Linked DNA regions of Homo sapiens. The protein of the gene in region 2 purifies or fractionates together with the protein of the main gene of each other region. This does not show direct contact. Each region holds a gene or a part of one and is shown on either strand. Other genes may lie near its edges.

The links.
Region 1: the proteins of PLGRKT (region 2) and FAM204A purify together in Homo sapiens (affinity purification with mass spectrometry; one large-scale study listed by BioGRID and IntAct). This does not show direct contact.

What each region holds. Positions count from the first base shown.
Region 1 is NC_000010.11:118,328,825-118,332,324, forward strand, and holds part of FAM204A (protein FAM204A), read right to left. Parts: intron 1-3,500.
Region 2 is NC_000009.12:5,427,926-5,431,425, forward strand, and holds part of PLGRKT (plasminogen receptor (KT)), read right to left. Parts: intron 1-3,500. UniProt on the Homo sapiens protein: Receptor for plasminogen. Regulates urokinase plasminogen activator-dependent and stimulates tissue-type plasminogen activator-dependent cell surface plasminogen activation.

The sequences.
Region 1 (3,500 bases), on a different chromosome or scaffold from region 2:
CTGGTTGTCCCTTAATCACAGTGTTCCTCAAGTTTCTGACTAGCATATTTTTCGTCTTACTTTTTACCCTCCCCAGTAATCTACTCTGTCCTGGAGCTTCAATTACTTTCTATGAGCTGGTTTAGCTCTCTAAATAATTAGAAACACCTGACTTCTCCCCTGTACCAATACCTACATCTCCAGCTACTTGCTAATCATCTTCACACTGAAGGCCTACAAAGGCAAGGTCTTCAATTTCATGATGTCTGTAACAAGCCCAACACTTGCTGCCCTGCTTCTCCTCCTCCTCAGTCACCCTTGATAGAATCCTCAGTTATCTTCAATGCTTCCAACCCCTTGCTCCTATCTGAACTCTATTTTGGCAAAAGTCTCTCATTTCTTCCTTCTGTGCTTCTTCAGGGACACGTGATCCCTTATTTGGAATATTATAACCATCTCCAAACTAGTCTTCTCTTTCTGAAACAGGCATCATGTCATTACCCAGCTTAAAGCATTACTTCATATTCCCTCTGAATAACATCCCACTCCCTTCACAATGGGGTCCCCAGATGCTTTCTCAACCCCATCTTCAGCAATTAAAAAGCTATGCTTTTTAATCTCTGGTCACATTTACCATTTTCCTAATGTTCCCTGTGCCTCTGATGTGCTTCTCTTTGAAAAATATTAATCATCCCTTTAGGCTCACGTCGAATGTTACCTTCTCTATCTACGCAGAGCTCCTCAGCCCTACATTCCTATGACCCCATCACCCTCCCCAAACCCCACACCAGGCTCTCCACTCTGTGCTGTTGCTGTACCTTGTGTCCCTTCAGCACCTAACTTGTCTGACACACTACAGTGAGTTGTGTATTCTCCCCTCTTGAGTCCTATACTCAGTGAGAGCAGGCTGTGTGTCACCGGCTTGGTGTGTCCCAGAATCCAGCCCAGTTCCTTCTACATAGAAGACATTTGTTCAGTCTGTGCTACTGAGCTGATATTCACACTGCCGTCATCCATGTTTGCATTCATAGTGAAAGGACCCCACTCAAACTGGGAACATTTATTACATACCAACTACTCTGAGAAGCTTCCAGAGAATTCACAACTGTAATATTGAAGTAATAATGCCCCTATGGTTAAAAAAAGGTACACGTATTGTACTCATTTATATATACATCTATCCTGGTACTAGAATATATACATTCCTCAAGGGCATGGAGAGTATCTTCTCCATCTTGGGCTCCCAGAGCTTAAAATAGTACCTGCACCTAGAACTTTATTTAATTTTTACTGAAAATAGTTATTTTCTTTAAAAAATGTAAATACAACAGCCTCATTTTCCTGTGCAGAATATTAACCATCGCCTCAAATGTCACTGACACATATTTGTATGTGTCAAAATCTATTTGTATAAAACATTAATATCAAACTACAAGTTTCCTTGCACTACAAATTCTTGCATAGCCTGATACCTCAACTCAGAACTTATCCAATCTCACGCAGGGAAGCAATCAAACTAGACCTGCTCCAACCATTCATCTCAACAACCTGCTCACTAACAGCTTCCATTCTTTTGCCTGTCCATTCCCCCAGCCATTAAGATCATAATCTAAAGGTAATAGCATATTACAGTGGAAAGAGCACAGGACTAGAAGACAGGAGATGTGGTCAAAGCTCTGGGTAAATGACATACTTGACTCATAAGCCTCTGTTTCCTCAAAGATAATAAGAAGACTGGCTTGAATGAGTAACCCTCCTAGAAATAAAAATTCTAGGTTTCTATCACATTTTCAGCTTTGTTTTTAGCCCTTTTCTCTTTCTGACAATTTATTTAAATAAAATGTACTACCTTCTTTTAGCTCTGAAAAACTCCTGGTTCCATGTACACCCAAACTTTGTTTCCATAAGAACTTATTAATATTCCAAATACACTCAAAACACTTAGTAAAACATTCCCATCTCCTTAAAGACTGTAAGTTCACAGCAGCTCACAAAGAGCACAGCTGGCAGGATCAGACCTAGGTTCAGACTAGCTCCTCCACTTATGAACTAAGCAACCCTGAGTGAGTTTCTAAACCTCTGTGGGTTGCAGTTATCTTACACATGCAATAAAATGAGAATAAAACCACATTCTCTGCAAGATTATGATGAGTCAAAGAACATATATATAGAATACCTAGCCACGTTTTTAGAATATAGTAGTCATTCAATAAATAATAAGGTGCTCCTATTATTAAACCTAAATATCAGGATACCATTATTGCAAAAGAGAAGGCTTATCTCTATAAGGCTACAGACTGCATTATACTTCTTCAAGCTCAGACCCAAGTACAAGACCCAAGCATTCCACTTTGTCAGTAAGCAATCTCATGAAATAGAGTCTGAGTATTAAGGCTTTTTGAAAAGTTTTAAGCTGGACTCAAGAGTAGCCTTTATTTGACTTATCTAGAATGTCTTCCATACTATAGGAGTGGCAGGAGGCACAGAGGAGCTACTGATAGCCTGCAGCACCTTGGTGTGCTTCTAAGTTGCCTTTTGGCTAGAATCAAAACATAATTTATGATATATCTCAACACAGACAAACCTAGGAATGGCAATTTGGCCACAGGTGAAAAATTTATCTAAACGAAGTATCTAACCCACGAGGCAACAATTGCCAATTAATTAAGTTTTAATATAGATGTCAAGAAGACAGGACTACAAATATCTAAGAAATGTATGGGTACTTGGTTTAACATTGTGGGCTAACATCTATATGTGCATATGTAGAATATCTTTTATATGTGGTTAAAGCTTTTAAAGTCAAACTATACCACAATATATTTATATGAAAATTCTGCTATTAAATATTTATTCTGTTAATATATTCAATTTTTAAAGCTTAACACAAATGAATTATCCATTGAAGTTTGCATTACTGAACCTAAATATCTAGGAAAAAATGAGGCAATCTCTTCATAAAGAAAGGCAGTGGAGGGGCGGAAGAGGTACTTTCATACATAAATGTAAATCATATATTTATTCATAATTTTGTTACCTTTATATATATATATATATATATAATCATACCCACTTAAAATCAATTGAGTCGGCTGGGTGTGATGGCTCATGCCTATAATTCCAGCACTTTGGGAGGCCAAGGCAGGCGGATCACAAGGTCAGGAGTTTGAGACCAGCCTGGCCAATATGGTGAATCCCCATCTCTACTAAAAATACAAAAATTAGCTGGGCATGATGGCGCACACCTCTAGTCCCAGCTACAGGAAGCTGAGGTAGAAGAATGGTTTGCACCTGGGAAGTGGAGGATGCAGTGAGCTGAGATTGCACCACTGCATTCCAGCCTGGGCAACAGAGCAAGACTCTGTTTCAGAAAAAAAAAAAAAAAATCATATGAGTCAGGTAAATAAAAACCAGGTTCAGAAAAAATCTAGATTTGGGACCAAATGACTTGGGTTTAAAGTCTCATTTCACTTCTCACCTGGTTTGTTTTCTTAGGCAAATTATGCTGAGCTTCAGTTTCT
Region 2 (3,500 bases):
TATGTGTTAAATGTGGTTGAACAACAAAAGGTAGGGTTGAAACAAGGTGTCCTAATGGTGCTTTGGCTGTGTCATACTCCCTTCTGGGGTGGGAGAAGGGAGGATGTTATCAATGACAATGGGGCAGCAAGCTCCACGATCCAGCCAAAAAACAAGGCGACGTGGCGATGGCTGCTGAATCTAGGGGTCCCCAGAGCTGAAATAAATGGTGTTAACAATGAGGGTAGAGAACTGTGGGTAGACTAAAAGCGTCAGAAACTTGTCTGTTGAGCCCAGTGGCAGAGGTCACTTGAAATAAAGTAAATACAAAGCCTTGCTTACTGGCACTGAGTGGCTCTCTCCCTCCAGTCCCCAATCCTCCCCTGCCTCTCCTCCAACTCCCTCTGCTTTAGGGAAGTATGCTGGGGAACTTCAGGGCAGGGAAGGACTCAAAATTTTATGGCTCTGTTGGACTGGACACGAGTGCCAAAGTCTACTTGGTCTCAGGGAAGGCAAGTATGCTAAGCACTGGGGTGGCCCAGAGCTCCAAAGACTGCAAGGCCATGCAGTGGCTCCAGCAAAGGCTGAAATAATGATGGCTCTGAGTGGCCATTCTCTCCAGAGGCCAGAGAACACAGGACAGGAAGCAGCACCCATTCTGGGACGAGGAGCCAAAGGACAAAAAGCCCTCCCTGCCCCTCTCCCCTAGCTGGAGACAGCATAATCTCTTGAAACTATTACGACCACCCTTGAAGTACCTATGTTAAACTCTTTTGTCTCTGTTCTTTTATTGTTATTGTTTTGGTTTTTTGAGATAGGGTCTCGCTCTGTCAACCAGGCTGGAGTACAGTGGTATGATCACAGCTCACTGCAGCCTTGACCTTCCTGGGCTCAAGCAATCCTCCCACCTCAGCGTCCTGTGTAGCTGGGACTATAGTTGTGTAACACCATGCCTGGCTAATTTTTTAAATTTTTTAAATGGAGATGAAGTCTCACTATGTTGCCCAGGGTGGTCTTGAATTCTTGGGCTCAAGCAATCATCCTGCCATGGTCTCCCAGTGTGCTGGGATTACAGGTGTGAGTCATCATGCTTGATCACATGTATATTGTGACTAGGTGGGGGAAAGTAACTGAATTCAACTGATAGAGTGTAAGCAAACTTCACAATGAGTAAAAAAAAATTAAAGGGACCTTTATAGCCAATTCAAGATACTGTGATGTGTGTCAACACTCTCCCTACCCACTACATACAAATGTACAATGACATTGATGTATTACATGCTTGTATTATAAAACTCACAGTGACCAAAACAGACTCCCCAGTCAGGGATTCCCAGACCCCTTCTAGGTGGTCTAATAGAAACATAGAAGCCCAGGGAGGAAAAGAAAATCACTATGAAGCTCCAGTGAGGCCACTGCCCAGTGCAGCAGCACCACCTGCTTGGCACAGGCACCAAATACATCCTGTATTAGTTTGCTGGGGCTGCCATAACAAAGGACCACAAACTGGACGGCTTAAGCAACAGAAATTTATTGTCTCTGTTCTGAAGGGGAGAAATCTAAAATCAAGGTGTCTGCAAGGTTTGTTCCTTACTAAGGCTGTGAGAGAAGCATCTGTTCCAGGCCCCTTCCTTGGCTTGTAAACAGCTGTCTTCATATTCACATTGTATGGTCCCGGTATGCATAGTCCAGTATGAATTGTATGGTCTTGTATCCAAATTTCTTCTTCTCATAAAGCCATCAGTCACACTGAATTGGGGCCCATTCTAACGACCTCATTTTAACTTGATTACCTCTGTAAAGACCCTATCTCCAAACAAGATCACATTCTGAAGTACTATAGGTTAAGGCTTCAACATATGAATTTGGAGACAGGAGACACATTTCAACCCATAACACACCCCTTTCAAAAAGGGGACGCAATCGTTGGTCTGCTGCTGAGCTCTTGTTAAAAATGAACCCATGGAGGCTTGTAACTCCCAGGTCTGACATCTCCATTTTGGGGTGGGTCAACCAGGACACAACAACTACGAGGAGAGTAGCTCCCACCCTCTCCCCCTGCCACAACCCACCCCTTGCTCATGGCCCACTGTAAAAGCAGTAGGCTCCCTAAGCTCAACGCTGCTCAACTGTGACACAAATCCACTGAGTGCATAGCACTCATTTCGCCCGTGCCCATCTTTGTCACCTCGGTGAGTTTTGGAGGACATGGGGAATTAACACCACCACGCTCATGCTGTTTGCTGTGCTGTGAGTAATAAAGTCCTCTGACTCTGATGTAGTTGTCTCCAGTCTTCTGTAATAGGCTAACACGTTAGCTTGCAAGTAGGGTAAAATCCCAGACCCTTCACAGACCCTGACTTCATGGGGACCAACATAAGAGTAAAAACCCTGTAGTTTCCAAAGGTCTTTGACAAGGACGTGCTAAGCATCGGATAGCTGGCTGATTTGTAAACCTAATACTTGGTCTCGCCTAGGTCACTGCTCTGTTACAATAATTCAGTTGTCCATTCTTTCAATTGTTTCATTGTCCCCAAAGAGATATTTATTCTGCATAAGACACTCTTGTCAGTCATTAAAAACAATAATAGTAACAACAGCAACAAATATTTATGAGGTGAGAAGCATTTTTCTAAAAACTTGAGGCATTGTTCTATATATTTCATCTTTAATCTTTAAAACATCCCTTTGAAGGGGATATTATTACCTCCAGTGTACAGATCAGGAGACTGAGGCACAAGTCACACAGTTAGTCAAGGGTGGGACTGGGATTCAAACTCAGGCAGTCTGGCTTTAGTCTTCATTTTTAACCACTAGCTACATGCCTTACCAGAGGACTTTCTACTCCCAGAGCCATAATGGGCCACAGAGGCCTAGACATCTTTGTCTGAAATCTTAGGAAAATAATTCGGGTCAAACTTTTAAGACTTGATTTTTTGACTTGCAACATTTTAAAATGTTTTTTACAACCTGTATTAGGCAATTAGATAATCTTCTGCAGTGCTTTGATCTTTTCTATCCAGCCACGTCTAAATCCAATGTTAAGGTTTCACACTCCATGTTAGTTTCCTATTGCTGCAGTAACAAATTATACGAAGTCTGTGGCTTAAAACAACACCAATCTATTATCTTACAGTTCTAAGTTCAGAAGTCCAAAATGGGCTGGCAGGACTGCATCCCTGTAGAGGCTCTAAAGAATAATCTGTTTCCGTGCCTTTTCCAGCCTCTAGGGGCTTCCTGAATTCCTTGACTCATGATCCTTAAACAATCTTCAAAGCCAGCAGTGTAGCATCTTCAAATCTCTCTTATACTGACTCTCATGCTTCCTTCTTTCTCTTATAAAGACCCTTGTGGGCCAGGCACACATACCTGTAATTCCAGCAATTTGGGAGGCTGAGGCCAGTAGATCATTTGAGGCCAGGAGTTCGAGACCAGCCTGGCCAACATGGTGAAACCTTGTCTCTATTAAAAATACAAAAATTAGCCGGGAGTGGTGGTGCATGCCTGCAATCCCAGCTACT